4 linked regions of the Homo sapiens genome follow. The protein of the gene in region 1 interacts with the protein of each later gene in a pairwise test. Each region holds a gene or a part of one and is shown in the gene's direction. Other genes may lie near its edges.

Region 1 (7,024 bases):
CTCCCCAGCCCCTCCCCATCTTCTTCCTCTCGCAACAGCCCCTCCTGTGCCCACTACTCCTTCAGGGGGAAGCAGGATCCAAGGTGGAGCACTCTGGAAGCCACCTAGCAAGCTGGGGCTTGGTCAGCCTGGTCCCAGCTCTATGGGGTCAGTTCGAGGCCAGGGCCTACTGTCCAGCCTCGGGGCTCTGGCCCACTGTGGGGGAGCCTTGCCCTCTGTCCTGCTTGGCCCGAGTCCTGGCTGTGACAGGAAGCCCAAGACTCACAGGCATGTGACTGGGCCAGGGGGGCCCTGGGGGGAACCAGGCGCCGTGTGCCTGGTCCCGACTGGCCAGTTCCTGATTGTCCTAGCGCGCGAGCAAGCAGATGCACGCATGCGCACACATGCACACACACACATGGAAATTTGCTGAGTGTCCCCCTGCCAGTGGTCACTTCTGTGGGGCCATGAGTCAGCAGCTGCTGCTGCTCCGTGAAGCCAGGCGGTTGGAGAAACATTGGGCTGGGCTGGTGCCAGGAATCTGGTGGCTGACGGTGGCCCAGGCTCCAATCCTGGGGGAAGCGGGCGCCCAGGCGACCCCAAACTCCAGGACCCTCTTACTCTCTGCCTCCTGAGAGGCTCGGCGGCATGGGACCCCTTGTACTTGCCTGATCCCTGAGTCAGCACCCCCACCTGCGCCTGCTATCCCTGTGTACACACGGGGAAACTGAGGCCCTGGGCCATTAAGGCAGGGTTGCTGGGCAGGCAGTGATTGTAAGGCTTACCTTCTCCCCTTGACCAGCTGAACCCCTCTGCCTGGAAGCCCTCCAAGCCTGGGGTTCACCCTGGAGGGCAGGGCAGGCACTGAGACACCCAGAATCAGACCTTGACATGGCCCCAACCTGGGGAGGAAGTCACTTCCTTTCTCAGACCTTGGACTGCGGGCCACCAGGGGAGTCTTCCAGGCCGGGCTTTCCTGCACCCGGGGCTCAGGCTGAGGGCCACGTCTGTCCCCACCCTGGCTTGACCTCTGGCCTTGTCTTTTCCGTGGGGAAGTCCTCAGCCTCACCATGTATTGAGCAGGGGTAGGTGACAGAAGCCAGGGGTCTAGAGACCCCAAGTACCCGTGGGCATTAGGACCGAGGGCTGGGGACCTGGCCCATCTTCCCTGCAGGCTGAGCAGGTGGGAGTGGGTGGCTGTTGGCAGCTGTGGGCCCCGTGATGCCCCTCCCTCCAGTATGGGCCTTGGCTCTGGGGACAGCCGGGCCTTCTGAGGCCCAGTGGGGAGATGGGGCCCCCTCTCCCATCCCTGACGGACCCTGTCCCCTGCCAGGCCCAGTACTACGGGGAGATTGGCATCGGGACGCCCCCCCAGTGCTTCACAGTCGTCTTCGACACGGGCTCCTCCAACCTGTGGGTCCCCTCCATCCACTGCAAACTGCTGGACATCGCTTGCTGTGAGTCACGAACCCTGGCCCCGTCGCCCAGGTCCTGCCCTTCCGGGATGTCGCTGCAGGGCTGCCTCAGGAATCACTTGGGCAACGCAATTCTCCTGCCTCTTGGCCCCGTGAGCCAGGCCAGCCCTCCACCCTGCTCCAGCCACTGACTTTCTGGGTGAACCACCAGCTGTGGTCTTGCTCTCAGCAGGGCTGGGGCTGGGGTGGCCACAGAGGGAGCCGGCTGTGGCTGGGAGGGAGGCCCGGGGTCACAGCCCACAGTCCCGGGGCTCTGGCATGATGGTGGGCCTCAGATCCCCTCCAAATCCCACCCTGGGGAGGCAGCTTGGGGGGTGCGGGCTCCATGGTAGATTGTAGGGGGATGGGAGGGCTAAGGCCGTGGCGTGGGCTGCGGGATGACCGGCGGGCCCCCTTGTCGCCCGGGGCAGGGATCCACCACAAGTACAACAGCGACAAGTCCAGCACCTACGTGAAGAATGGTACCTCGTTTGACATCCACTATGGCTCGGGCAGCCTCTCCGGGTACCTGAGCCAGGACACTGTGTCGGTGAGTCCCTCTGGGGCCTTTCCCAGGACTCGAGGGTGCCAGGGTGTGGGGTTCACCCACCGTGGGTATGTGGTTGAAAGGGAGGGCTCGGTGATCCCAGCCCAACCCCAGCCCTCAGGTGGCCGGGGCAGTCAGCAGGGTGAGGAGGGGTCTGGGAATGGGCCTGGTTGTGTGCAGGCTGGAGGGACAGCCTCAAACCCAGGGGGTACAGGGGCAGGGGTCCCCGGAGTCAGGCCACAATGAGTGGGAGGGAGGACAGGGCAGATCGATCGGGCTCTTTTTGGCACATTGGGTTTGAGGTGCCAGCAGGTGTTGAGGGCTGGACCTGGGGCTGCACAGGGTCCCTGCAGCAGGCCGAGGGCTTGGGGAGGCTTGGGGTTGGGAGGATGTACCAGGAACCCGCTGTGGGGGCTGCTGGCGGAGAGTCACCGGCAGGAGCCTGGGAGGGCAAGGGAGGGGGAGCAGCAGTGGCTGTTGGGGGCCCCGCCTGCATCCACCATCCTCAGGGCCCTGTGCAGAGCAACTCCCTGCCCTAGGAGAGGGTGAGCTGGCCCTTGTCACCCTGCCTGGGCCTCAGTGAGTTCTCACCTCGGAGCTGTCTGCTGGGGGTGGACCAGGCCACAAGGGGTTCAGGAGTTACGGGATGGTGACACAGCCCCCAGCTCTGGAGCGGGCCAGGAGGGCAGCAGAGCCCCCCTGCAGGCCCAGGGACCCGGGAAGAGGGCCCCTTCCTCCAGCTGAAGCTGCTCCTAACAGTTCCCTGCTGGGCTGGAGTCCAGTCTGTACTGGGGGCTCCTCAGAGCCCTCCTGTCTGGACCCTGCTCAGCCTGAACAGGAAATTGCCCCGTCTGCCCTCTTCCGCCCTCTTCTGCCCCCTCCGCCCCGTGTCAGCCTCAAGCTGTCGTTCCCTTCCCACATCCTGCTCTGGCCGTGTTCTCTCTCTGCAGCCTCATCCAGGGCTGGGGGAGGGGACAGGCAGAGAAGGGGAAGGGGGCAGTATGGCTGTGAGCTTGGGATGGGGTCGGCAGGTTCCCCATCTCTCGGGCTCCTGGCCCAGGCTGTGTCTTGTTCCCAGCGCTGAGGGCAGGAGCAGGACCTGCCTGTCATTGGTGGTGGGAGTAAGAGGTCGGAGCAGGGAGCGGAGCAAGGGGCCTGCCCGTCTGTGCTCCTGCCTGGTTCCCATCTCGTGTAAACCGAGCCCTGATGACTTCCACGAAGAGGGCCCCGCCATACCCCGTGTCCCCATCCCCAGCGGTGTTCAGCTCAGGGTTTCCAGCCCTTTCTTCTGGGCCCTCTGGGCCCCATCGTGTGTGGGATGGGCATCCATTGAACTGGGTTTTGTAGCCTCATGCTCAGGGAGTGGTGTAGGGCTCAGCCTGTCTGCTGCCCACTGACTCTGCCCTGGCCTGCAGGTGCCCTGCCAGTCAGCGTCGTCAGCCTCTGCCCTGGGCGGTGTCAAAGTGGAGAGGCAGGTCTTTGGGGAGGCCACCAAGCAGCCAGGCATCACCTTCATCGCAGCCAAGTTCGATGGCATCCTGGGCATGGCCTACCCCCGCATCTCCGTCAACAACGTGCTGCCCGTCTTCGACAACCTGATGCAGCAGAAGCTGGTGGACCAGAACATCTTCTCCTTCTACCTGAGCAGGTGGGCGTGTGGGTTCCCTCTCGCTCCGCGTTGCTGGGAGGCAGGGCGGGGCTGGACGGGGAGCCTTCTAGGCACCCCCTCTCAGTGCTGCCCCCTCCCTGCTGCTGTGCCAGAGCTCCTGACCTCTGACCTCAGGGCATCCGGGAGGCGGGGGTTGGCCGCCCTTCTGCAGAGGAGTAAGCGGCAGCACAGAGAAAGCTGTTTGGCCGGGGTCTCCCAGTGGGAGGGGCTCGGGCCAGGCTGTGGGTCCTGGGACCTTGGCAGCTGGGCCTCCCTCCTATGAGAATGGACCCAGGTCAGGGGTCGTGGCAGTTCCTCTTGGTTCAGTCGGCCCGTCGGTCCCCAGACCTGGTGATGGGCACATGTGGTCCTGGTCCCGGGGTTGCTGATGGTGGAGAGGGTCATGGTGCCCAGGGGACCGGGGATCCCCGGGGAGGTGACCTTGGGTGCGTATGGGTCCCCGGCACCACGCTGCGAGCAGCTCTGTGGGCGTCCCCAGCAGGTGCCGGCTGCCCTCGAGGAGGAACATAGGGGGCCCTTCCTTCTGGGAAAAGGGTTCTCCCCCAGGGCCCCCACCTGCAGCCGCTGCTCCAGCTTGGGTGACCCATGGTCAGGTGACCTTGGGAAGGGGACGTCGGACTCAGTTAGTTTCCTCTTCTCGGGGCAGACCTGAGTGGAGGGTTCCACATAAGAGGGGTGACTGGGGGTTGGGGGCTTTTGTTTTGGGGGTGGGCAGCGTGTCAGCCGGCGGCCTCCTGCCCTGAGCTGCGCCTGGTCACTGCCCCACACTCTCCAGGGCTGACAGGGGCAGGTTTACCTCACGTGGCTCACTTGGCACTTGGAGTCTCTGGGCCTGACCCCTAACCTTGGATCGCTTCCGGCAGAATTCCGGCTGTAGGGCTGGCTGGGCCTCTTTGCTCTGCCCCTTGCCTGGGCAGTGAATACTCCTTAGCAACACCCAGGGCTAAGCTGCTCACTAGAGGCCAGGACACAGGTGAACCGGCTGGGCCATTTCCCCAGGAGCCTTGGGGCACAGGGGAGGCAGCCAGGTGAAAAGGGGTCCCCTGAGGGCAAGAGGGCATGCAGGCATGAGTGCCCACATGGGGAGGGGGCACACAGCCTGAGTACCCAGGTCAGGGAGGGGGACACAGGCATGAATGCCCATGTGGGGGAGGGGCACACAGCATGAGTGCCCATGTGGGGGAGGGGCACACGGTATGAGTACCCAGGTCGGGGGAGGCATACACAGGCATGAGTGCCAGGTGGAAGGAGGGGCACACAGAGTGAGTGCCCAGGTGGGGGAGGTGCACATGGTTGTGAGTGCCCAGGTGTAGTCTCAAGGCAGCAGCTTGGGCAGGAAGTGGAGCCAGGCAGGAGGGAGGGTCTGAGGGCTTCTGAAAGCATGTTTGGTGAGGAGAGGAGGGGTGGGAGGCGCTGATCAGGTTTCTACACTTGGGATTGCAGAGGTGTTGACAAGAGGCAAAGGCGGAGGAGGCTGGAGGAGGGCGGAGGCCCCAATCGGTGTTGGGAGGACTGGGTCAGGCCTGGCACTGCCTCGAGTGACAGGCAGTGGGATGGTGGCCAGCTTAGCTGCAGACGCTCTGGCGGGATGGCAGAACCGCCCCAGACACAGAGAGCTTCTCTACCAGGACCGGCAGGATTTGCTGCGTTGAAAGCTGTACTTGAGCAATGTTTAGAAACAAACCCGGGCGACATGGGTTGCAGGTCCTAGGAAGTGCAGTGCGCTCCTGCCCAGGAGCACCTTGGCTGGCCATCAGTGGTCTGGATGAGGGGGAGATGAGCGGACGTGGCTCGGGGATGCAGGTGGAGGGTGTTCCCAGGAGCAGCCAGTGCAGAGGCCCTGCGGCCAGAACCAGCCATCCCAACTTCCCAGATTGTGCCATCACTCCCTCCTGGAAGCCTTCTTTGGTTTTTTCTTCCAGACAGACAGACAGGGTCCTCCCCAGTGGAGCTCCTGGCACTCACTTCCTTGTCTGCCGCTAGCCTTGACCCTGATGTCTGGCTGAACCTTGGCTCCTGAGCAGACCAGGAGAACCTGAGGGTTGAGGAAAACCTCTTCTGGGCCAGGCTGGGCCCACGCAGAGCAGCCCTACCCCGGGAAGAAGGGAGTCTGTCCCTCCTCCTGCCTTCTGGGCCTTTCCATCCCTGCAGTTTCAGAAAGGCCCCTCCTTCAGGAAGCTCTCCCTGATTGCCACATTCACCCTCTTACTCCTGACCTGGCACTCTTGTGCTTGGGGGGTGGCGTGGCAGCTGACTCCTCCCTTTTCCTCCTAGGGACCCAGATGCGCAGCCTGGGGGTGAGCTGATGCTGGGTGGCACAGACTCCAAGTATTACAAGGGTTCTCTGTCCTACCTGAATGTCACCCGCAAGGCCTACTGGCAGGTCCACCTGGACCAGTGAGTAGTGGCTGCAGTCGGCTCCCCTGGGTTCTGTGGGCGGGGGCGGTGTGCGGAGACCCTGGAGGACCCCGGTTCTGCAGGTGGGGGTTGCATGTGGGGAGTAGTGGGAGCTGGGCAAGAAAGAGATGGGGTCAGACCAGCCCTCCATGCCCCTCCTTGCCCCTCCATGCTCCCCATCACCTCCATCCCCTCTATTCCCTCTATCCCTCCATCCCTCCATTTCCTCCATGCCTCTGTGACTCTCCATGACCCACCATCCCTTCTGTCCATCCCTCCATGCCCTCCATCCCCTCCATCCCCTCATCCCTCTGTGACTCTTCATGACCCTCCATCTCCTCCATCCCTCCATCCCCTCCATCCCTCCATCCCTCCATCCCCTCCATCCCTCCATCCCTCCATCCCCACATCCCTCTGTGACTCTCCATGACCCTCCATCCCCTCCATCTGTCTATCCCTCCATCCCTCCATCCCTCCATGCCCCTCCATCCCTTCATCCCCTCCATCCCCTCCATCCCTCTATGCCCCTCCATCCCCTCCATCCCTCCATGCCCCTCACCACCACCTGAGGGTCTCCCACCCCCTCTACCACTCTGTGTCTCCTCTCCCACCCTCTTCCCTGGAGGGCTTACAGCCGGCTGTGCTTCCAGGAGCCCTGAGGGGAGGAGAGTGCAGCCCAGCCAGGGGAGGGGCTCCCAGGGAGGGGCACTGGGCCCCCAGGGCACACTCCAGTCCCGGCAGGGGCTTCACGCCCTGACTCCCCGCAGGGTGGAGGTGGCCAGCGGGCTGACCCTGTGCAAGGAGGGCTGTGAGGCCATTGTGGACACAGGCACTTCCCTCATGGTGGGCCCGGTGGATGAGGTGCGCGAGCTGCAGAAGGCCATCGGGGCCGTGCCGCTGATTCAGGGCGAGGTGAGCGCCGGGGGCTGGGGCTGGGGCTGGGGCTGGCAGGGGGAGCCCCAAGGCCACCACTACCAC
Region 2 (7,902 bases), on another chromosome or scaffold:
GGGAGAGACCCAGAAAAGCGAAGACAAGAGGAAAAGGGAGAGGCAGAATGTTAGACCCTCGTGGGAACCTGGGAGCTTCCCTGGCTCCCACTTTCCCCTTCCCCTGTATTGCCTGAGCTGGAGACAGTGTGTGAGAGGGGCCGGGCGCGGTGGCTCACGCCTGTAATCCCAACACTTTGGGAGGCCAAGGGGGGCGGATCACGAGGTCAGGAGATCCAGACCATCCTGGCTAACACGGTGAAACCCCGTCTCTACTAAAAATACAAAAAATTATCCAGGCGTGGTGGCGGGCATCTGTAGTCCCAGCTAATCAGGAGGCTGAGGCAGGAGAATGACATGAACCCGGGAGGCAGAGCTTGCAGTGAGCTGAGATTGTGCCCCGGCACTCCAGCCTGGGCCACAGAGTGAGACTCCATCTCAAAAAAAAAAAAAGTGCATGAGAGGGCACAGACCAAAAGAGGGACTTCCCAGGCTGGGCACAGTGGCTCACACCTATAATCCCAGTACTTTCAGAGGCCAAGGCAGGCGGAGGATCACTGGAGGCCAGGAGTTCAAGACCAGCCTGGACAACATAGCGAGACCCCCCCCATCTCTACAAAAAATAAATTAGCTGGGCGCGATGGCTCACGCCTGTAATTCCAGCACTTTGGGAGGCTGAGGTGGATGGATCACCTGAAGTTGGGAGTTTGAGACCACCCTGGCCAACATGGTGAAACCCTGTCTCTACTTAAAAAATACATAATTAAGCTGGGCACGGTGGCCCATGCCTGTAATCCCAGCACTTTGGGAGGCTGAGGCGGACAGATCACGAGGTGAGGAGTTCAAGACCAGCCAGGCCAAAATGGTGAAACCGCATCTCTACTAAAAAATACAAAAATTAGCTGGGCATGGTGGCGGGCGCCTGTAATCCCGGCTACTTGGGAGGCTGAGGCAGGATAATTGCTTGAACCTGGGAGGGGGAGGTTGCAGTGAGCTGAGATCGCGCCATCACACTCCAGCCTGGGCAGCAAGAATGAAACTCCAACTCAAAAAAATAAATAAGCCGGGCTCAGTGGCTCACGCCTGTAATCCTAGCACTTTGGGAGGCCGAGGCAGGCAGGCAGATCACTTGAGGTCAGGAGTTTGAGACCAGCCTGGCCAACATGGTGAAACCCTGTCTCTACTAAAAATACAAAAATTAGCCAGGTGTGGTGGCACAGGCCTGTAATCCCAGCTACTCAGGAGGCTGAGGCAGGAGAATTGCTTGAACCTAGGAGACGGAGGCTGCAGTGAGCCAAGATCGTGCCACGGTACTCCAGCCTGGGTGACAGAGCAAGACTTCGTCTCAAAACAAAAAAACAAAACAAAAAAAGCTTTCCACGCTACCCACAGAGGGCTCCATCCGGCGTTGTTCTGGATTCCTGTTGTAACTTAAAGAGAAACTTTCACAACATCCGGAGCCCTTGATGTCCTGCAAATGAAGGAGGAAGATGTCCTTAATTTCCTTGCAGCAGGAAACCAATTAGGTGGCACCAACCTTGACTTACAGATGGAACAGTACATGTATAAAAGGAAAAGTGATGGCATCTACATCCCAAATCTGAAGAGGACCTGGGAGAAGCTTCTGCTGGCAGCTCGTGGCATTGTTGCCATTGAAAACCCCGCTGATGTCAGTGTCATACCCTCCAGAAATACTGGCCAGAGGGCCGTGCTGAAGTTTGCTGCTGCCACTGGAGCCACTCCAATCGCTGGCCGCTTCACTCCTGGAACCTTCACTAACCAGATCCAGGCAGCCTTCCGGGAGCCACGGCTTCTTGTGTTTACTGACCCCAGGGCTGATCAGCAGCCTCTCACAGAGGCATCTTATGTTAACCTACCTACCTTGCTCTGTGTCTCACAGATTCTCCTCTGCGCCATGTGGACATTGCCATCCCAAGCAACAACAAGGGAGCTCACTCAGTGGGTCTGATGTGGTGGATGCTGGCTCGGGAAGTTCTGCGCATGCGTGGCACCATTTCCTGTGAACACCCGTGGGAGGTCATGCCTGATCTCTACTTCTACAGAGATCATGAAGACATTGAAAAAGAAGAGCAGGCTGCTGCTGAAAAGGCTGTGACAAGGAGGAATTTCAGGGTGAATGGACTGCTCCGGCTCCTGAGTTCACTGCTACTCAACCTGAGGTTGCAGACTGGTCTGAAGGCGTGCAGGTGCCCTCTGTGCTATCTAGCAGTTCCCTACTGAAGACTGGAGCATTCAGCCTGCCACAGAAGACTGGTCTGCAGCTCCCACCACTCAGGCCACTGGATGGGTAGGAGCAACAACTGAATGGTCTTAAACACCTGTACTGTGAGCTCCCCCTGCCCCATCTTCCAGCCCAGGTGCACCTGGCAGCCTGGCTCTTGCATTCCTCGGCTGGGCTTGGATGCTGGCGGTCCTCTACCTGGTCTGGCTCTATTGGGATAGAAACATACCCAGGGCTGGAGCCCGCAGATCTGCCTGGGTTTGCAACTGGGCAGTTTGAGACATTTCTGTGACTACTTCCCCCTCTCAGTGAGGACCTGGGCTGTGGGGTGCTGGGTGCGGTTGGGGCTTCAGAATAGACTCTTGGGACCACCATCTCCCAAAGTGCAATCTCACCGTTGGGGTGGGGTGCGCCCGTCTGCTCCCCAGCTAGTTAAAACTGCAAAGTTGGGCACCTCCTGGAACTACCTCTTTGACTTCCACCCTCACAGGGTCCTGGTCGTGGGAGCCTTCGCCAACTTCTGCACAGAGCCCACGGGCTGCTCCTGCCTCTTCCCCAAACTCCCGCCACACCTGCTCATGCTGCCTTGTTGGTTCCATCTCCTCTTCTTCCAGGACTACATCATGTCAGGTGGTGAGAAGAGGAGGACCTTGCTGCTGTCTCCCGCCCCACCATCCTCTTCCCAGGGGACACTGGGGCCCAGCTCTCCTTTCCCCATGTCCTCTCCACTCTTCTTTCCAAGTCCCAGGCTTTGGCTGGGTGCGGTGGTTCACACCTGTAATCCCAGCACTTGGGAGGCGCAGGCGAGAGGATCGCTTAAGGCCAGGAGTTCAAGACCAGCCTGGGCAACACAGTGAAACCCCATCTCTACACAAGAAAAAACAAAAACAAAAATTTAGCCAGGTGTGGTGGTACACACCTGTGGTCCCAGCTACTGGGAGGCTTGAGGTGGGAGGGTCACTTGAGCCCTGAAGGTCAAGGATGCAGTGAACCAAGATCAGGCCACTGTACTCCAGCCTGGGCAACAGAGCAAGACTCCGTCCCTAAATAAATAAGTAAATAAGACCCAGGCGTTGGGTCCCCCAGCTTCTGCCCTCCCCCCAGGTTTGGTCTCCTTTGTCAAGGCCCCGCTGCCTCAGTGGTGGCCAGGTGGCTGTCCTGGCGTGGGAGGGCCCCTGCAGGCGCTGGAGGCAAAACCCGGACAACTGAGCTTGCCGATTCGGAATCAGAAGAGATTGGTTAAGTCAGCTCTGGAACTCGGGTGAGGACCCGAGCGTGACCCGGTGGGGACGCCCCAGGGCTGCCGGGCCGGGGAGGAGGAGAGTGGCGCCACCCGCGGACCCCGGGGCCAGGAGTCAGCCGCGCCATGCTCTCCTGCGGCCTCCCTAGTGCCTGTCTTCTCCAGGGAGAATGAGCTCTTCCAGCAGTTCCCGAACCCGCAGAGCTCGTGGGTGCAGAGGACGCAGGAGGCTCTGCGTCCGCTGCTAAGCGTGGCCCTGCAGCTGTTCCTGGGCCGCCGGGGCCTCCCGCTGCCCTTCCGCGCGCCCATCCGCACCGTAGGTGAGCCCCGGCCTCCGCCCCGCGATCCTGGCCCAGGGCCCGCTCCCTCCCCGTCCCGGGTTGGGGCCACCCAGACTGGCCTTTGGCCACCGCGCCAGCCCTGAACTCTGTTCCCGCCTATCCCCAAGGAGGAAAAGAGGAGGAGAACCGGGGATCCCAGCCCAGATCGCCTCCCGTCCCGCCCGCAGTGGGGTCGGCGATTCCCGTGCAGCAGAGCCCCCCGCCCAGTCCGGCCCAGGTGGACACGCTGCAAGCGCGCTACGTGGGGCGACTCACGCAGCTCTTCGAGGAGCACCAGGCGCGCTATGGTGTCCCCGCCGACAGACACCTGGTCCTCACGGAGGCGCGCCCCACCGCCTGGCCTCGCCTGTCCGCTGGGTGACTGCAGGTGGGGAAGTGAAATTAAAGACTGGCGGCAGGGCACGGTGGCTCACGCCTGTGATTCCAGCACTTTGGGAGGCCGAGGCGGGTGGATCACTTGAGGTCAGGAGTTCGAGACCAGCCTGGCCATCATGGTGAAACCCCATCTCTATTAAAAATCCAAAAAAAAAAAAAAAAAAAATTAGCCAGACGTGGTGGCGCGCCTGTAATCCTAGCTACTCGGGAGGCTGAGGCAGGAGAATCGTTTGAACCCGGGAGGCGGAGGTTGCAGTGAGCCGAGATCGTGCCACTGCTCTCCAGCCTGGGTGACCGAGACGTGTGAAAAAAAAAGAAAAAAAAGAAAAGAAAAGAAAAAGAAAAAAATTAAAGTGGGAAACAGACCTGCAGCCTGTGTGTGTTTGTGCATGGCGGGGGAGGTCCAGGCAGGGGTGGTGACCTTGACATTCCTGGAGATGCCCCGGACCAGGCCCTGCCCCCACCCCGACTGGAGGTCAAATAGTCTCAGCAGGGCTTCTGGCCCCTTCCAGCACCTGGGACCCAGTGGGTGGGGCTAGCCAGATCACTCTTGTCCACTCCAACATCAATTCCTGAGGCACTCGGGTGTCACCTCTCCCTTGCACACCCCTTACGCCTCCCAGCCCCACCCAGCAGCCAGCCCAGACTGGTGACTGACAGGAAGTTCAAAGATCAGGCTGAGAAAAAACCCAGAGACATCTGGGGCTCTGGATCCAAAGATCTCCCCACTCACACACCTACGGACACACGCTACTCTGGGAGGTGATTTGCGACTTAGCCAGGCCCCCAAAGCTGGGCTCCTGTAGGGAGAAAGTCTGCCCAGGTCCACATCCAAGCCTTCATCGTTTGTCCTCCGGGTTCTGGGATCCTGCTGGAAGAGGGGAGCTTCTGCAATGGGAGTTGCCACAACCCTGCAGCCCCCAACCACTTCCAAAACCTTGCAGAAGCAGCATCTAGAAGCAGTGGGCGCCTACCAATATGTGCTCACTTTCCTCTTCATGGGTGAGAGCTGGGGAGGCGTGGGTGCCTGGGGTCTGCCAGGGGAGTAGGGCTTGGAGGGAGAGTGGCTGGGCTGCTGGCTTGCATGCCTGAGGACAGTGACCAGGTGACTGGTCTGGGAGAGGGCCAGAGGAGAGAGCTGGTTGTTCTGAAGGGGAGGAAGGGAAGGGAGCAGCTGGAGGGAATGATGGAGTTTCAGAAGTGAACTCTTTTCTTTCTCTCCCTTCCCCCAGGCCCTTTCTTCTCCCTTCTTGTCTTTGTCCTCCTCTTCACGTCACTCTGGCCCTTCTCTGTTTTTTACTTGGTGTGGCTCTATGTGGACTGGGACACACCCAACCAAGGTGAGCTCCGGATGGGGGCCCAGGTAGCCAGAGATGGTGGGGACATGGGGGGTGAGGGGAGGTGACTCCGGGGGTTCGTCCACCAGTATCTCATTGTCCGCAGGTGGAAGGCGTTCGGAGTGGATAAGGAACCGGGCAATTTGGAGACAACTAAGGGATTATTATCCTGTCAAGGTGATGGGTCACCCTGCAGAAAAACTGCTTCCTACCTCTCCCCATCTCCCTCCCACACCTAGGAGCCCTTCCTTGTGCTGGGGCCTGAGCTCCCCGCTGCCTAAGCTCAGGCAGTGGGACAGGGAATGGATTTTTTTTTTTTTTTAGACTGAGTCTCCTGTCACCGAGGCTGGAGTGCAGTGGTGCAATCTCAGCTCATTGCAACCTCCGCCTCCTAGGTTCAAGCTATTCTCATGCCTCAGCCTCCCTAGTAGCTGGGATTATAGGTGCCCGCCACCATGCCTGGCTAATTTTTGTAGTTTAGTAGAGACAGGGTTTCAACATGTTGGCCAGGCTGGTCTCAAACTCCTGGCCTCAAGTGATCCAGCCACCTCGGCCTCCCAAAGTGCTGGGATTACAGCCTTGAGCCACCGCGCCCGGCCTGGGAGTGGATGATGTTCAAGAGCGGGGCCTTGGTGGGGCACCATGGCTCATGCCTGTAATCCAAGCACTTTGGGAGGCCGAGGTGGGAGGATTGCTTGAGCCCAGGAGTTGGAGGCTGTAGTGAGCCATGATTGCGCCACTGTACTCCAGCCTGAGCAACAGAGTGAGACCGTCTCTAAAAAAAAAAAAAAAAAAAGGCGGTTGTGGTGGCTCAAGCCTTTAATCCCAGCACTTTGGGAGGCTGAGGTGGGTGGATCACCTAAGGTCAGGAGTTCGAGACCAGCCTGACCAACATGGAGAAACCCCATCTCTACTAAAAATACCAAACAAATTAGCCGGACATGGTGGCACATGCCTGTAATCCCAGCTACTCTGGAGGCTGAGGCAGGAGAATTGCTTGAACCAGGGAGGCGGAGGTTGTGGTGAGCTGAGATGATGCCATTGCACTCCAGCCTAGGCAACAGGAGCAAAACTCTGCCTCAAAAAAAGAAAAGAAAAAAAGAGAGAGTGGGTGAGGTGGCTTACGCCTGTAATCCCAGCACTGTGGGAGGCCAAGGCAGGCAGATCACGAGGTCAGGAGTTCAAGACCAACCTGGCCAATATGGTGAAACTGCGTCTCTACTAAAAATACAAAAATTAGCTGGGCATAGTTTCGCATGCCTGTAATCCCAGCTACTCGGGAGGCTGAGGCAGGAGGATAGCTTGAACCGGGACCAAGAGGCGGAGGTTGCAGTGAGCCGAGATCGTGCCACTGCACTTCAGCCTGGGCTACAGAGCAAGACTCCATCTCAAAAAAAAAAAAAAAAAAAACCTGGGCCCTTAACCCTATCCTAAGAACCTTTAACTCGGAACTCTGCTGGGGTGGCCCTTGACCCTATCCTAAGAACCTTTAACTCGGAACTCTGTTGGGGTGGAGGGCCCCTCTTTTCAGCCGGTGTCTTGCCTTCCATCCTCCCTTCATCCTGCTCAACACCCCGAAGCTGGTGAAAACAGCAGAGCTGCCCCCGGATCGGAACTACGTGCTGGGCGCCCACCCTCATGGGATCATGTGTACAGGCTTCCTCTGTAATTTCTCCACCGAGAGCAATGGCTTCTCCCAGCTCTTCCCGGGGCTCCGGCCCTGGTTAGCCGTGCTGGCTGGCCTCTTCTACCTCCCGGTCTATCGCGACTACATCATGTCCTTTGGTGAGCCGAATGGGAGGAGGAGAACGGGAGGAGACTCCTGACCAGATGTTCCCCAGCCCCTCTGGGACCACCCCCCCCCATAATAAGTCCCCCACCCAGGACAGGGGCCAGCCTGAGCACTGCCCAGACTTGCAGTGAGCATTTGGGTAGGTTCCCCGCCTTGGAGATGGGGGTAGGGGGCTTGGAACTAAAGGCTGGGTGAGGGGCGGGGGTGCCGTGGAGGCAGATGGGAACTACTTTCCACCTCCTCCTGCCCACAGGACTCTGTCCGGTGAGCCGCCAGAGCCTGGACTTCATCCTGTCCCAGCCCCAGCTCGGGCAGGCCGTGGTCATCATGGTGGGGGGTGCGCACGAGGCCCTGTATTCAGTCCCCGGGGAGCACTGCCTTACGCTCCAGAAGCGCAAAGGCTTCGTGCGCCTGGCGCTGAGGCACGGGTGAGTGCGCGTGCAGGCCCTACCTGTCAGTTCTCTGCTGGTTTATGCCCTCTCTCAGTCCCCAGACATCTAGGTCCCTGCATGGGGGATCCGGGTGCCCAGAGACCAGCGCCCTGCCCTGCACCGAGGCCCACGTGGGCTCTCCAGGGCATGACTCGGTACCAAACA
Region 3 (7,996 bases), on another chromosome or scaffold:
TTTTTGTTAGCATTTTATTACCTGAGGGATTTGTAGTTAAGCCCCTTCTTTAAAAAAATCTTGATACTTGGATTTTGTGCCCTCTTTCTTTTTTTCTCTATTTTTCTAGAGATTCATTGAATTTATTAGTCTTTAAAAGAATGAACTTGTAGATTTATTTTCTCTTTTATATATTTGTTTTATCTTTCATTGACTTCTGCTTGATTTTTCTTCTTTCTTGCTGCTTACCTCGAGTTTCATTCATTTCACCTTTCCACCTCTACTATATGCATTTAAATATGACCTTAATTGTAATATTAAAGTTTTTATAAGTTGAATTTTCATTATCATTCAAATAACAGTATTTCCTAATTTTCATTTGTACTCACATTTTAGCTTGTGATTTATTTAGAAGTATATTGAGTACTTTTCAAACATATAAAGGTTTTAACATTATCTTTTTGTTACTGATTTCTAGCCTAATTGTGCCTTTTATCAGAAAATATACTCTGTATAGTTTCAGTCTTATTATATTTGTTATATTTGCTTTATATCTACCATTGGGTTAATTGAGGTTGTTCATATGATGTGAATTCTGCATTTGCTGAGTATAAGGAATATGAATTAGGTCAAGTTTATTGATTGCCTTGTTCAAGTGTACTATATTCACATTGAATTTTTGTTTGCTTGTTGTATCACAGAGAGGTTTGTTAAAATCTTCTACTATGATAATAAATTTGTCCATTTTCCCTTTCGTCATGTCATTGTTTTGCTTCACATATTTGAGACTAAAACTGCAACAAATTCAGAATTGTAATGTTTTAGAAAGATTGACACTTTTATTATGAAATTACCTCTCTTTGTTGCCAATAATGTTTCTTGCCTTAAAGTCTAATCTGGTAAGTGCTCAGTGCATTTACATATTATTATCATCAAATTTGGGGTTTTAAATTTGCTCTCTTACTCTTTGTTTTCTACTTATCTATTCATTCTATATGTCTTTTCTGTACTTTTTGGCATTTTTTTGGATAATATTTCTTCATTCCATTTTTTCCTGTTTTATCTTGCTAATTTTGTTGTTATTTTTTAGTCACTATTCCAAAGATGATGGTGAGCATTCTTGATTGATTAAAGTCTAATGTTAATTAGTACTTTTACCACCTTCAAGAAGATGCAAAGATTTTAGAACACTTGAATTCAATTTATATCTCTCCATGCTTTATCCCATTATTGTCAGGAATTTTGACTCTACCTATATTTCAAATCCTGTTAGGTGATTACTATTGTTATTGTAAATCTTTGATATGTACATAGGTTTACCCACACATTTGCTCTTTCTATTGCTCTTGGTTTCTTTGTGCAGTTCTGGCTCTCACCTGGGATTGCCTTTGCACTTTTGGAATCACTCCTTTTAGCATTTCCCTTAGTTCATGTTGGTGGGTTACAAATCATCATAGTTTCAGTTTGTCTGAAAATATTATTGTGTCATCAAGATGATGGATATTTTTATTGCATAAAGAACTCTAAATTAGCAGTTATTTTCTTTTACAATTTTGAAGATGTTGTTCCATTTCCTTTGGGTTCCATTGCTGTTGTTGAAAAGGCTGTCTTCAATCTTATTGTTGCACACTTAAAAGTTTTTGCCTCCGAACAGATTTTAAGTTTTGTTTTTGTTTTTTCTTTAGAGATGGAGGTCTCACTATGTTGCTTAGGCTGGTCTCAAACTCCTGGCTGAAAGCAATCCTATCATCTCAGCTTCTCGTGTAACATAATTTTAAAATTTCTTTCTTCATTTTTTTATTTCATATATTGGACCTTGGTAGAGTTTTTGTTGTTGTTTCTATTCTCTTTGGGATTCATAGTGCTTCTTGAGTCTATGTCTTTTTTTATTATGATTTTTTAAAAAATGTATTGCCCTTTAAAATATCGTTTCTTCCAAATTCTTCCTCTTGTTTCTTTCCAGAGCAACATTATAGGCATGTTAAAACTTTGCCCTATGTCTTTCATGACTTTTGTGTGATTTTATATAATTTTTATCTTTTTTTTGTTGCCATTATTCAATCTGGTATTTCTTTTTTTTCTTTTTCTTTTTTTTTTGAGACTGAGTTTTGCGCTTGTCACCCAGGCTGGAGTGCAATGGTGTGATCTTAGCTCATTGCAACCTCTACCTCCTGGGATCAAGCGATTCTCCTGCCTTGGCCTCCCTGGTAGCTGGGATTACAGGCACCCACCACTATGTCCAGCTAATTTTTGTATTTTTAGTAAAGACAGGGTTTCACCATGTTGGCCAGGCTGGTCTTGAACTCCTGACCTCAGGTGATCCACCTGCCTTGGCCTCCCAAAGTGCTGGGATTACAGGTGTGAGCCACCATGCCCAGCCCAATCTGCTACTTTCTACTGACCTATATTTCAATTCCATCATCCTCTGTGTCTAATCTTCTATTAGTCTTCATCAGTTAAGTAACTTTAGTTGTTTTATTTTTCAGTTTCAGAATTTCTATTTTATTAAAAAAATTCTCTAGTGTAAATTTTCTATATTTTGTGTACTCTCTTCAAACATTGATTACAGCTATTTTAAAACCAATCAATTCTGAATGCCCTTGTGCATTTGTTTCTATTTTCTGTTTATTTTCATGGTCTGTTTTTCTAGACTTATCTTCAGACATGGCTTTTAATAGTTATTGAAATTTGGACATTGTGTTTAAAAAGTTTGAGAGTCAATTCATTGATCTGGTTAGTGTTATCGTCCTCCAGAGAGTATTTACTTTTGCTTGATGTGTGTGAGGAGGTCGTTATGACGATGGCAAATCTCCTATCTATTCAGTGATTGTCTACCTAATTCAGCAATTTAGGTGATTTGAAATTGGGCTCCCACTTTGTGATGGTACAATATTTTTAGCACATGCTGTCTCCTAGGGTGTAGCCCTTCAGGGGTCCTAACTGAAAATTTGAGGTAATTATAAGGGCACCACCTCCTTGGTGGTCTCTGTTTGCTTCTTAAACTAGATTTCCTTAACTTCTGAGCATCTTAGCCACTGTATTTCACCTGTTTCTTCACCTCTCAGTGTCCAGTTTCAAATCAGCAGTGCCTTGAGTAAAAAGTACTCAGGAGTTGAAAATCAGATTCACTGATTTGTACTTCCTGTCTTCTGGGGATTTTATTTCTTCAAGGTGTCATTGCCTGGGCAGCTTTCTGAAGCCTTCAAACTTATAGGTTTTGCATTCTGTTCATTTTTGTAAGCTGCTCTCAGCAGGAGGGTTTGTCAGCAACAATCTTCTCTACAACTAATAAAGCTTGAAATATCTCTAGCATGAGTTATTTTGAAGCAGATAGCATTTTAACTCATATGGCAGAAAGAACGCACATCTGCTGAAATTGAAGAGTTTCCTGATGCAGAGGCCTTCTCTTCAAACTAAGAAACAAAGTTGGAAGCACTTAGAACATTATGTTTGGAGTAAGAAATGTGAATACTGATGAAAACAGAACTGCAAAAATTTCGCCTAAAATAATGAGTGTTTTAGCACTGTAAAGAATACCAGGAATCACCCCAAATTACCAAAGTTATCATTCTACTTAGGGACCTTAAAATAGAAAGAACCCAGGGCCAGTATCATTTTGATGCCTTTTAAAATTTCTTTTTGAAATAGTGAAATGTCACAATGGATTTTAAAAATAGGGGAATGTTGAAAATGTTGATATTTAATAAATTAGTACTTTTTAATTGACCAATTTCTATATAATATTAACATGCTGTCTACATCAGGAGTTCTCAACCCCTGGGCCACAGACCAGCAGTGGTTCGTGGCCTGTTAGGAACTGGGCTGTACAGAAGGAGCGGAGCAGTGCACGAGTGGGCCAGCAAAGTTTCGTCTATATTTACAGCTGCTCCCCATCACTTGCATTACTGCCTGAGCTCCACCTCCTGTTAGATCAGCAGCGGCATTAGATTCTCATGGGAGCATGAACCTTATTGTTGAATTGTCCATGCTAGGGATCTAGGTTGCAGTGTTCCTTATGAGAATCTAATGTCTGATGATCTATCATTGTCTTCCATCACCCCCAAATGGGACCATCTAGTTGCAGAAAAACAACCTCAGGGCTTCCACTGATTCTACATTATGATGAGTTGTATAATTATTTCATTATATATTATCATGTAATAACAATTGAAATAAAGTGCGCAATAAATGTAATGTGCTTGAATCATCCAGAAAACATCCCCACCCCTGTCTGTGGAAAAATTGTCTTCCATGAAACCTTTCCCTGGTGCCAAAAAAGGTTGGGGACCACCGATTTACATAATTAGAAAGTTTATAAAATCCTAATTTATAGAGTGGTCATCAAATGGTAGGAAAGTTCAAGCAGTTTGAGGAACTGATGTTTTTTTTTCTCAATACTTGCAGTGCATCTCTATGACTGTATGGGCAGCTTCTTCTGGAGATAATGTTGACAGTCTAAAAAGTTAAGCTGTGACGATTTACTCCCCTCCCCTGCCCCTATAGCACACTCTGATTTTAAATATTTTCTCTCTTAATTCTAATTAAATGACATAATTATAGTGCCATATCCCAGTCAATGCCATTTATCAGTGACAGCTAATTAACACAATTATAAAAGTGGGAGCCCTAAGTTACCAGTGAGGTATAGAGCAACTCTGGAAATTTTCTCCTTACTGAAAGGAAATATTACACATATTCCTTCACCAGAAGAACAATACACAGTTTACCTTCCCTTTTTGTTTTTGATAATACCACTTTGTTCCCCATTCTCTACAAAATTTAGTTTGAAGAACATTTTAAAAACTTGATTCATCGTAGTCATCAATCCTTCATAAATATTTCTTGACAATTGGCCTCTCTGTAGTTTGCAACCTGGACTACTCATGTTTAAGAGCTTGGTTTTTCAAGACTATTGTGTTTCAAATGGTTTTGAGGTTTTATGGTCTGTTGACATTCTGAGGAACTTAGAACACATTCACTTCCTTTTGCTTGGTGAGCTGTCCAGAGCCTTTGCAAATGCATGCAGAGCATGGAAATGACCCAGCTGCCCTGCTGTTGAAACAGAATCCTATTTGGAAGGCAGACATGTGGCCCATCTCTGTAGCCATCACTGAGAAATCTGGATTTTCAAGGTAAGTGCAGATGACTTAGGTTTGGGGAGACATGAATGAAAGTGCTATAGAAATAAAGCACACTTAATTTGTTGGCATAGTCCTAATTCAGAATCTTCAAATGGTTCTGCTCTAAAAAGCAAGCTTATTCTCTGACCACAACTCCTCCTTTATAGAAAGAATTGTTCTATTCTTACTGCTTAGGATATGCTGCTCTGAAAGTAAAACCTAATATTTATGGGTAAATGTGAACAAAAATGATTTCAGAATCTCTCTGTCAAAAAACCAGCTAAACATATCATAGAATTTTTTAGAGCAGTTGGCACTATTGAATTTGTGTATAATTATTCAAATGCTTATCTTTTAAGTGATGTCTTAATTTCCTTTTGTTATGAAAATCCTTTAACTCTATTACTGCATTATTTTCAGATAGAGTTTGAAACTATTCAGGCAGCCCTAGTCAATAGAAGGAAACAATCTGTAAGCAATCAAGTACTTAGAAATTTCTAAAAGAAGTATATTCAAAATAACATGTGAAATAATGGTAATTATAATTCTTTCCATCCCACTTTTAAAGTACTACTTAACAGGAAGGATCTGAAAATAACTTCTTAAATAAGATAAATAAAAAGAACAACATCTGTTCAAATAATTTTACTTTAAGTAAAATACTTTCTATACCAGTATTTTCTACTTCCAAGAAGTAATATTTTTCAAATATGTGGAATGAAATATAATGCAAAGTTTTTAAACAATAAGTCAGTAATGCCTAACCTGAATATAGGCATTTAATTTTGTTTCTTTTACAAATTTGTTATATGACTTTTGATAGGTCACTTAATTCTCTGGACTTCAGCGTTCTACATAACTGCACAATTACTTATCTGAGAAATTACTTATTAAGTACTCCAGAATTACATGTCTTTGTTTTCTGTTTTATTGGGTTTAAATCAGTTAATTAGGATTTTAATCAGTCAATAGAAGTAATGGGAAGACCAATGGATGAGGAATCAGGTGGTGTGAATTCTAGTCCTCTGTTTTCTAGTAATTGGCTGCATAATTTGGGGGAATATTGTCTAAGGATTCCAGACCAGGGGTTGGCAAACTTTTTCTACAAAAGCCTTGATAGTAAATATTTTAGGCTTTGCAAGCCAAGAGGTAGAACTGAGGCTAATATATTGGTACTTACATAACCATTTAAAACTATAAAAACCATTCGTAGCTCACAGGCTGTATAAAAACAAGAAGTGAGCCAGCTTTGGCTTAGGTGACACAATTTTCCAACTATTCTTCTAGCAATGATTTTCAACAATTATAAAATGGAAGTTGTAGACTGGATAAGAGATGCTCAGCTAAGGGAGTTCCTGGATGGTCTTTAGATTGATACACCAATCCTCTGAAATTGCATGCAAAAATGTAAGTGTGTGTTTTTCTTTTCTTCCTTTTGTGCGTGTGTGTGTTTCTCTCCCTCCCTCCTTCCTTCCTGCCTGCCTGCCTGCCTGCCTGCCTGCCTTCCTGCCTTCTTCCCTCCCTCCCTCCCTCCATCTCTCTCTCTCTTTCTCTCTTTCTTTCTTCAGGGCCTTTCTCTCTGTTGCCCAGGCTGGAGTTTAGCGACTCAATCATGGCTCACTGACTGCAGCATCGACCTCCGGGGCTCAAGTGATCCTTTCATCTCAGCCTCCTCAGTAGCTGAGACTACAGGTACTTGCCACCACACCTGGCTAATTAATTAATTTTTTTTTTTAAATAGAGACAGGGTCTTGCTCATGTTGCCCAGGTTAGTCTCAAACTCCTGGGCACAAGTGATCCTCCTGCCTTGGCTTTTCAGAGTACTGGGATAACAAACATGAGCCACTGTGCCTGGCAGCACTTTTTTTTTTTTTTTTTTTTTTTTAAATAAGAAAAACACGGATTGATTTTCAAAGTGGTCCAAAATCCAATTGTAGTTAAGGACCACAGGTCTAGCTAATTTCTAAAAGTGCTTTCCAAATTTAAAATCAATGAGCCTGTGAAATGTTTACTGGTGTCTACTATGGGTAAGCCATTGTGCTAGCACTATAAGAGACGTAGCATGTTGTGACTAAAATAATGTGTTAAATATATTGTTAAATAATATGTTAAAAAATATATTTTTGGGACAGGGCCTCGCTCTGTCTCCAAGGCAGGAGTGCAGTGGCACAATCACAGCTCACTGAAGCCTTCACCTCCTGGAATCAAGTGGTCCTCTCACTTCAGCCTTCCGAATAGCTGGGAGTGCAGGTGTGAGCCACCCTGCCTGCCTTTTTTTTTTTTTTTTTTCTTTAGAGAGGGGGTCTCACTATGTTGCCAAGGCTGGTCTCAAATCCCTGGGCTCAAGCAGTCTTCCTGACTCAGACTCAGACTAAAAATATTTTAAAGAAGTTAGAATATGTGCAAGTCTGTGCTGTCTTTCAAAGTAATAACATTGAAAACAATTTTCAATTGATCAAAGATTTCTGAGACATTGCTTTGCAAAGTGTTTTCAAAGCTAGTTCATACGTTATACCAAAGTATTTTCCAAATTATGTTATTGTCCCATCTTATTTTGAATGACAATGTTATTATTCGTGACAGTCATAATCAAACTTAATCTAAGCATAGTCTGTTTCCTAAAAACATAATTTCCTTAAGGGCAGGAACTATGCCTTTGCTACCTTTATATTTTAGAACAGGGTTTGACCCATAATAAGTACCCAGCATCTTTGGAATGGTTATATGAGTGAATAAGTGAATGAAATGATGAAGGTATTATCATGGAGATTACGTACCATAGATAGTGAAGGCTTGGAACTCCAGATGGTCTAAAAGCAGTAGTTGCTAAGTCCAAAGATGGCTTCTCTTTTCAAAATTGGATGTAACTGTGATTTCAAAATAATTGGCCAACTCAA
Region 4 (6,885 bases), on another chromosome or scaffold:
TCTCTACCCCTCGTACATCCAGGAACACTGAGTTTCAAAGAAGGATAGGGGAATATCAGGGAAAGCGCTCAGCAGGCCTGTTTCACCTGCCCGAATCCTGTTTCCTGTTACCCATCCATTTCTCCCTTCAGCCTCCTGTAGTCTCTTTTTTCTGACTCCGACCACTGGTCACTCACCCGGCTCTCTTCCAGCTCTCTTGCTCCATCTAGTGGTAAAAGCTGAACGCGGGCGCCCTAAACCTAGCCTGCCTCCGACTTAATGCGCTCCCGGAAGCCTGTCTCACTTAATCCTGGCTGTCAGCCTGCAGGTCCTGGCTCTGGCATCCGAGAGAGACTGGAGCACCCAGTGTTACACGTGAGCTGGAATGACGCCCGTGCCTACTGTGCTTGGCGGGGAAAACGACTGCCCACGGAGGAAGAGTGGGAGTTTGCCGCCCGAGGGGGCTTGAAGGGTATCCAGATGATAAGGCGATTTTCCTTTATTCTTCTCCCCATCCTGCCCAGCATGAGGGGCTTTAAAGGGTGGAAAGGGGCTGGGCGCAGTGGCTTATGCCTGTAATCCCAACACTTTGGGAGGCTGGGGCAGGAGGATCGCTTGAGGCCAGGAGTAAAAGACTAGCCTGGGCAATATAGGGAGACCCTGTCTCTCCGAAAAATACAAAAATGAGCTGGGCCTGGTGGCATGTGCCTGTAGTCCCAGCTACTCAGGAGGCTGAGGTGGGAAGATCCTTTGAGCCTAGGAGTTCAAAGCTGCGGCGAGCTATGATCGCACCACTGCTGTCTGGCCTGAGTGACAGAACAAGACCCTGTCTCAAAAGAAAAAGCGGGGGGATGGGGCAGGAAGGGTCTGTGTTCCCTAGAGCAGTGCTTCTTAAGCTATCTGTGGTGGAGGACCAGTGTTTTTTTTTTTTTTTAATTTCTAGTCCATCTCAGACTGATATAAAATACCATAAAAATTAATAACTGGAAAATTGAAAGAACAGACATAAAATATTTTATTGGAAATTCCACAGACATGTTACATTTCAATAAATATAACTAGAGCAACATAGCATAAGGAAAAAGAATTACCAAGACTACACACTTCTGCCTCTGGGGTACAGAGATTAATGTTAAGAGTCACTGTTTGCGGCCGGGCGCAGTGGCTCACGCCTGTAATCAAAGCACTTTGGGAGGCCGAGGTGGGTGGATCACGAGGTCAGGAGGTTGAGACCATCCTGGCTAACACAGTGAAACCCCGTCTCTACTAAAAATACAAAAAAAAATTAGCTGGGCTTGGTGGCGGGCGCCTGTAGTCCCAGCTACTTGGGAGGCTGAGGCAGGGGAATGGCGTGAACCTGGCAGGTGGAGGTTGCAGTGAGCCGAGATCACGCCACTGCACTCCAGCCTGGGCGACAGAGTAAGACTCCGTCTCAAAAAAAAAAAAAAAGAATCACTGTTTGCTCCTAACTCGGTCATTTGTCATTCTGCAATCCTAATTACACAAAAAGTTAGGACAGCAAAAAGCAACTCCGCACATTAAACCCCTCTACACAATCTTTCAGTGAACACCAGGTACATCAGTGATCAAAGTTTTTTGTTTTTTGTTTTTTGTTTTGAGACAGTCTAGCTCTGTCGCCCAAGGCTGGAGTACAGTGGCACGATCTCAGCTCCCTGCAACCTCCGCCTCCCGGGTTCAAGGGATTCTCCTGCCTCAGCCTCCCTAGTACCTGGGATTACAGGCACCTGCCACCATGCCCGGCTATTTTTTTTTTTTTTTTGAGACAGAGTGTCGCTGTGTCGCCCAGGCTGGAGTATGGTGGCGCGATCGCGGCTCACTGCAAGCTCCGCCTCCCGGGTTCACGCCATTCTCCTGCCTCAGCCTCCCAAGTAGCTGGGACTACAGGCGCCCGCCACCTCGCCCGGCTAATTTTTTGTATTTTTAGTAGAGACGGGGTTTCACCGTGTTAGCCAGGATGATCTCGATCTCCTGACCTCCTGATCCGTCTGCCTTGGCCTCCCAAAGTGCTGGGATTACAGGCGTGAGCCACCATGCCCTGCATAATTTTTGTATTTTTAGTAGAGACAGGATTTCACTGTGTTGGCCAGGCTGGTCTCGAACTCCTGACCTCGTGATCCATCTGCCTCGGTCTCCCAAAGTGCTGGGATTACAAGTGTGAGCCACCGCGACCAGCCAGTGATCGAAGTTTTTAATATGACCTGTGAGGTTGCCTCTGGCTCATTCATTTATGCAATCTAAGTCCAATTTCAAGTTTCTCGATTTCTGTACTTTTCTCAACATGAACTGATAACAGATGCTTTATAAACTGGCTCAGGTCCCAGAACCATGCTTAGGATTACATTGCCCTGGAGCACATGAGGAGGCCAGGGCCCTCTAATGCAGTTCAGCGAGTGGAGAGGATGGGCATGGCAAATAAAAGCAGGTCATTCACTCTTTTTTCTCATCACCCTCTAACTTCCTTTTGATTCCCTCACTCTTTCTGTGTTCTTTTTTCCTTCCCTAATTCTTCACCTCCCCCTCCTCTGCTGCCTCCTTGCTCTCCTCGCAGGTCAAGTTTACCCATGGGGGAACTGGTTCCAGCCAAACCGCACCAACCTGTGGCAGGTAAGACCTACGTTCCTCCTTTCACCAAGCATTGACAGAGACCTGCTGGAGGCTGGGCACTGTGTTGTTAGGCCGCGGCATCCAGAAGGCTTGGGTTCTAATGCAACTGATGACTCATAAGCTGGTAAAGCAAAAGACAATGGGTCATAAGTGCTTTCTTTTTTTTTTTTTTTTTGAGACAGAGTCTCTCTCTGTTGCCCACGCTGGAGTGCAGTGGTGCGATCTTGGCTCACTGCAACCTCCGCCTCCCAGGTTCAAGCGATTCTCCTGCCCCAGTCTCCCAAGTAGTTGGGATTACAGGTGCCTGCCACCATGCCCAGCTAATTTTTTTGTATTTTTAGTAGAGATGGGGTTTTGCCATGTTGGCCAGGCTGGTCTCAAACTCCTGACCTCAGGTGATCCACCCGCCTTGGCCTCCTAAAGTGCTGGGATTACAGGCATGAGCCACCGTGCCCAGCCAGCGTAAGTACTTTCTATTAAAGAGTTGTAGGGCTGGGTGCAGTGGCTCACGCCTGTAATCCCAGCACTTTGGGAGGCCGAGGCGGGTGGATCACCTGAGGTCAGGAGTTCAAGACCAGCCTGGCCAATATGGTGAAACCCTGCTTCTACAAAAAATAAAAGATGAGCTGGGCATGGTGGCATGCACCTGTAATCCCAGCTGCTTGGGGCTTGGGCAGGAGAATCACTTGAACCCAGGAGGCGGAGGTTGCAGTGAGCTACCACTGTACTCTAGCCTTGGCGACAGAACGAGACCCTGCCTCAAAAAAAAAAAAGTGAATAAAAAATAAAACTAAAATAAGCAAATAAAAAAGCACTGTCCTGAGAAGGCCAGCAGGAATAGGCTGCAGTGCTCAGGCATGAGACATGGGGGCAGGATGCAGAGGATCCTGTCTTCTTGAGGCACTGTGGCATGTGGGGTTCCAGGCAGAGGGCAGGATGTTGCTGAGAGTGGAGAAGTCAGGTGTGGGCTGGGCTTGACCTGGAGCCCTGTGGGTACAGGGGAAACACTCTTCCTAATCCAGCAGTGGGGGTCACCCTGGGGATGTAAGGTGATGGGTTTGGGAGCTCTAGATAGGAATCTTAGGTCACCGCCCCGTGCCCTTCCCCTTCCCCAGATGCAACAGCAAGACGACCTTGGTTTTCCTCTGGATAGGCATGAGGACCTGCTTTGGGACAGGTGGTAAATCCTTTACCCTTCCTTTCTCCCATCAGGGAAAGTTCCCCAAGGGAGACAAAGCTGAGGATGGCTTCCATGGAGTCTCCCCAGTGAATGCTTTCCCCGCCCAGAACAACTACGGTAAGAGCTGTCTTGGGCTTGCGGCTGTGCCCATGAACTGGCTGTTGGGACCATCATGTCTGAGAGAGGAGGCAGAGGGAAGCACCTCCCTTCTGCCATTTGGCCCCCAGGACCTCAGAGGGTAGGCGGGGTGGTCGGCGGGTCCCAGCCTGGCCTGACCCGCCGGTGGGGCTGCAGGGCTCTATGACCTCCTGGGGAACGTGTGGGAGTGGACAGCATCACCGTACCAGGCTGCTGAGCAGGACATGCGCGTCCTCCGGGGGGCATCCTGGATCGACACAGCTGATGGCTCTGCCAATCACCGGGCCCGGGTCACCACCAGGTAAGGGGCTTGGTCCCAGGCAACACGGGGCCTTGTAGCTGGGGGCTGATGTCTGAATCCCGGTCCCAGAGTGTCCCTACCTTCACACCACCAACCGTCTGTGTGTGATGAGCTGGTCCCAGCACCTCCCTGAGCCTGTGCCCAGTTGTGGGTACAAAAAAGAAAGCCAGCAGCACTTGCTATGAAAAGCAAAGGGACCCAGGACACCTTGTGACTCTCCTGCCAGCTCTTGGTACCCAGGGAGACTGTGTGTGGCATCTTAATTATGGGGTTTCTCCTCTTGTCCTTACCACTAGGTGGGCAAAGGGAGGGAAGTAGAATGACCACACCAGTAGGTCATTACTGGTGGTCATGGACTTACTGACTCTTCAAACTGGTGGGCACACGAAAAATCTTTTTTTTTTTTGAGACAGAGTCTTGCTCTGTTGTCCAGGCTGGAGTGCAGTGGCACAGTCTCAGCTCACTACAGCCTCAAACTGCCAGGCTCTAGCGATTCTTCCACCTCAGCTCCTCAAGTATCTGGGACTACAGGTGCGGCTAATTTTTGTAGAGATGAGTTTTTGCCATGCTGCCTAGGTTTGTCTCATACTCCTGGACTCAAGCAATCAGCCCGCCTTGGCCTCCCAGAATGCTAGGATTACAGGTGTGAGCCACTGCACCCGGCCGTGATATTCTCATTGCTTGTGGACAGGTTTTCTCTACTGAGCTGTTGTCAACTGCTAACATAGAAGTTAGTCACTGTCTTTTCTGCTCTTCAGTGCTGTCTCTTGGGGCCACTGTCCCTCCCCCTACTCTTGCAAGACTCCTTTTGTCCCAAAGCCCCTTCTTGTCCCCTTTCTCCCAGGACTGGCACAGGCTCAGGACCTGTCCTCACACCAGGCTTCTTTCCAGACCATGCTCTCCCCAGCCCTCATGCTCCCTGATCATGGCCGGCCCTGCGGATGAGGCAGGCAAGATGGGTAAGCCCTAGGCCTTTTTCTCAGGACGTGTCTGTCCTCTCTCCCCTTCTCTGCTGGCAGGATGGGCAACACTCCAGATTCAGCCTCAGACAACCTCGGTTTCCGCTGTGCTGCAGACGCAGGCCGGCCGCCAGGGGAGCTGTAAGCAGCCGGGTGGTGACAAGGAGAAAAGCCTTCTAGGGTCACTGTCATTCCCTGGCCATGTTGCAAACAGCGCAATTCCAAGCTCGAGAGCTTCAGCCTCAGGAAAGAACTTCCCCTTCCCTGTCTCCCATCCCTCTGTGGCAGGCGCCTCTCACCAGGGCAGGAGAGGACTCAGCCTCCTGTGTTTTGGAGAAGGGGCCCAATGTGTGTTGACGATGGCTGGGGGCCAGGTGTTTCTGTTAGAGGCCAAGTATTATTGACACAGGATTGCAAACACACAAACAATTGGAACAGAGCACTCTGAAAGGCCATTTTTTAAGCATTTTAAAATCTATTCTCTCCCCCTTTCTCCCTGGATGATTCAGGAAGCTGACATTGTTTCCTCAAGGCAGAATTTTCCTGGTTCTGTTTTCTCAGCCAGTTGCTGTGGAAGGAGAATGCTTTCTTTGTGGCCTCATCTGTGGTTTCGTGTCCCTCTGAAGGAAACTAGTTTCCACTGTGTAACAGGCAGACATGTAACTATTTAAAGCACAGTTCAGTCCTAAAAGGGTCTGGGAGAACCAGATGATGTACTAGGTGAAGCATTGCATTGTGGGAATCACAAAGCAAATAGTACTCCAGAAAGACAAATATCAGAAGCTTCCTATTCTTTTTTTTTTTTTTTTTTTTTTTGAGACAGGGTCTTTCTCTGTTGCCCAGGCTAGAGTGCACTGGTGATCACGGCTCACTCTAGCCTTGAATTCCTGGGCCCAAGCAATTCTCCCACCTCAGCCTCCTGAGTAGCTGGGACTACAAGTGTGCACCACCATGCCTGGCTAATTTTTTGAATTTTTGTAGTGATGGGATCTCGCTCTGTTGCCCAGGGTGGTCTCGAACTCCTGGCCTCAAGCGATCCTCCCACCTCGACCTCCCAAAGTGCTGGGATTACAGGTGTGAGCCACCTCGCCTGGGCCCCCTTCTCCATATGCCTCCAAAAACATGTCCCTGGAGAGTAGCCTGCTCCCACACTGTCACTGGATGTCATGGGGCCAATAAAATCTCCTGCAATTGTGTATCTCAGACATTTGTGTCTTTGATCCTCACCCTGTGACCCTAAGGGAAGAAAGCCTGAGTGTCAGTAACTCTGGGCCTCCCCTAAAGAGAAATGGAGATGGTGGCTCATCTAGGAAGTAGAGGAGCAGGGGGTTCCTGGTTCTCAGGCCACGTGTGATCTCTGCCCACCCAGGGCCTGCCCCAGCCTGCAGGTATTGCTGTGTGGTGGGAACACCCACTTCCCTTGTGCACAGCCTTTGAGAGGGGATCGTGGCCTCAGTTCCAGGGGTTCCTGGCCAGGGCCAAGTGCTCCTTCTGCAGAGGCCTGCACGCATCTCACCCCTTTGACTTGTATTTCCATGGCTTCCCCTCCCCACCTGCCCCCTAGCCCTCCCTGACTGGCCAGCCCCTCAGTAGTCCTCCTCGGCCAGGGAGAGGAGCACGGCCTTGGGTGTGTTCTCGAAAAGGGCTGCCCGGTTCTGCTGCTGCCCCTTCTTCACCCAGTGGCCATAGATTCGGAAAGCGTA

Evidence for each region.
Region 2: the proteins of CTSD (region 1) and MOGAT3 interact in binary tests that used the Homo sapiens proteins (3 or more experiments, as listed by UniProt).
Region 3: the proteins of CTSD (region 1) and GPR141 interact in binary tests that used the Homo sapiens proteins (3 or more experiments, as listed by UniProt).
Region 4: the proteins of CTSD (region 1) and SUMF2 interact in binary tests that used the Homo sapiens proteins (3 or more experiments, as listed by UniProt).

What each region holds. Positions count from the first base shown.
Region 1 is NC_000011.10:1,753,928-1,760,951, reverse strand, and holds part of CTSD (cathepsin D preproprotein), read left to right. Parts: exon of another isoform or gene 1-604; intron 605-1,312; coding exon 1,313-1,436; intron 1,437-1,864; coding exon 1,865-1,983; intron 1,984-3,395; coding exon 3,396-3,628; intron 3,629-5,923; coding exon 5,924-6,046; intron 6,047-6,813; coding exon 6,814-6,958; intron 6,959-7,024. UniProt on the Homo sapiens protein: Acid protease active in intracellular protein breakdown. Plays a role in APP processing following cleavage and activation by ADAM30 which leads to APP degradation.
Region 2 is NC_000007.14:101,198,023-101,205,924, reverse strand, and holds the start of MOGAT3 (2-acylglycerol O-acyltransferase 3), read left to right. Parts: upstream 1-4,888; 5' UTR 4,889-5,070; coding exon 5,071-5,179; intron 5,180-5,409; coding exon 5,410-5,517; intron 5,518-5,620; coding exon 5,621-5,691; intron 5,692-7,094; coding exon 7,095-7,299; intron 7,300-7,559; coding exon 7,560-7,734; intron 7,735-7,902. UniProt on the Homo sapiens protein: Catalyzes the formation of diacylglycerol from 2-monoacylglycerol and fatty acyl-CoA. Also able to catalyze the terminal step in triacylglycerol synthesis by using diacylglycerol and fatty acyl-CoA as substrates.
Region 3 is NC_000007.14:37,678,793-37,686,788, forward strand, and holds the start of GPR141 (probable G-protein coupled receptor 141), read left to right. Parts: upstream 1-4,973; 5' UTR 4,974-5,111; intron 5,112-6,386; exon of another isoform or gene 6,387-6,458; coding exon of another isoform or gene 6,459-6,506; intron 6,507-6,667; coding exon of another isoform or gene 6,668-6,791; intron 6,792-7,996. UniProt on the Homo sapiens protein: Orphan receptor.
Region 4 is NC_000007.14:56,074,286-56,081,170, forward strand, and holds the end of SUMF2 (inactive C-alpha-formylglycine-generating enzyme 2 isoform b precursor), read left to right. Parts: intron 1-300; coding exon 301-451; intron 452-2,548; coding exon 2,549-2,604; intron 2,605-3,816; coding exon 3,817-3,901; intron 3,902-4,078; coding exon 4,079-4,223; intron 4,224-4,636; coding exon of another isoform or gene 4,637-4,754; intron 4,755-5,067; coding exon of another isoform or gene 5,068-5,146; exon of another isoform or gene 5,147-5,242; coding exon 5,243-5,327; coding exon of another isoform or gene 5,328-5,586; 3' UTR 5,587-6,385; downstream 6,386-6,885. Other genes in the region: PHKG1 (phosphorylase b kinase gamma catalytic chain, skeletal muscle/heart isoform), read right to left, coding at 6,769-6,885. UniProt on the Homo sapiens protein: Lacks formylglycine generating activity and is unable to convert newly synthesized inactive sulfatases to their active form. Inhibits the activation of sulfatases by SUMF1.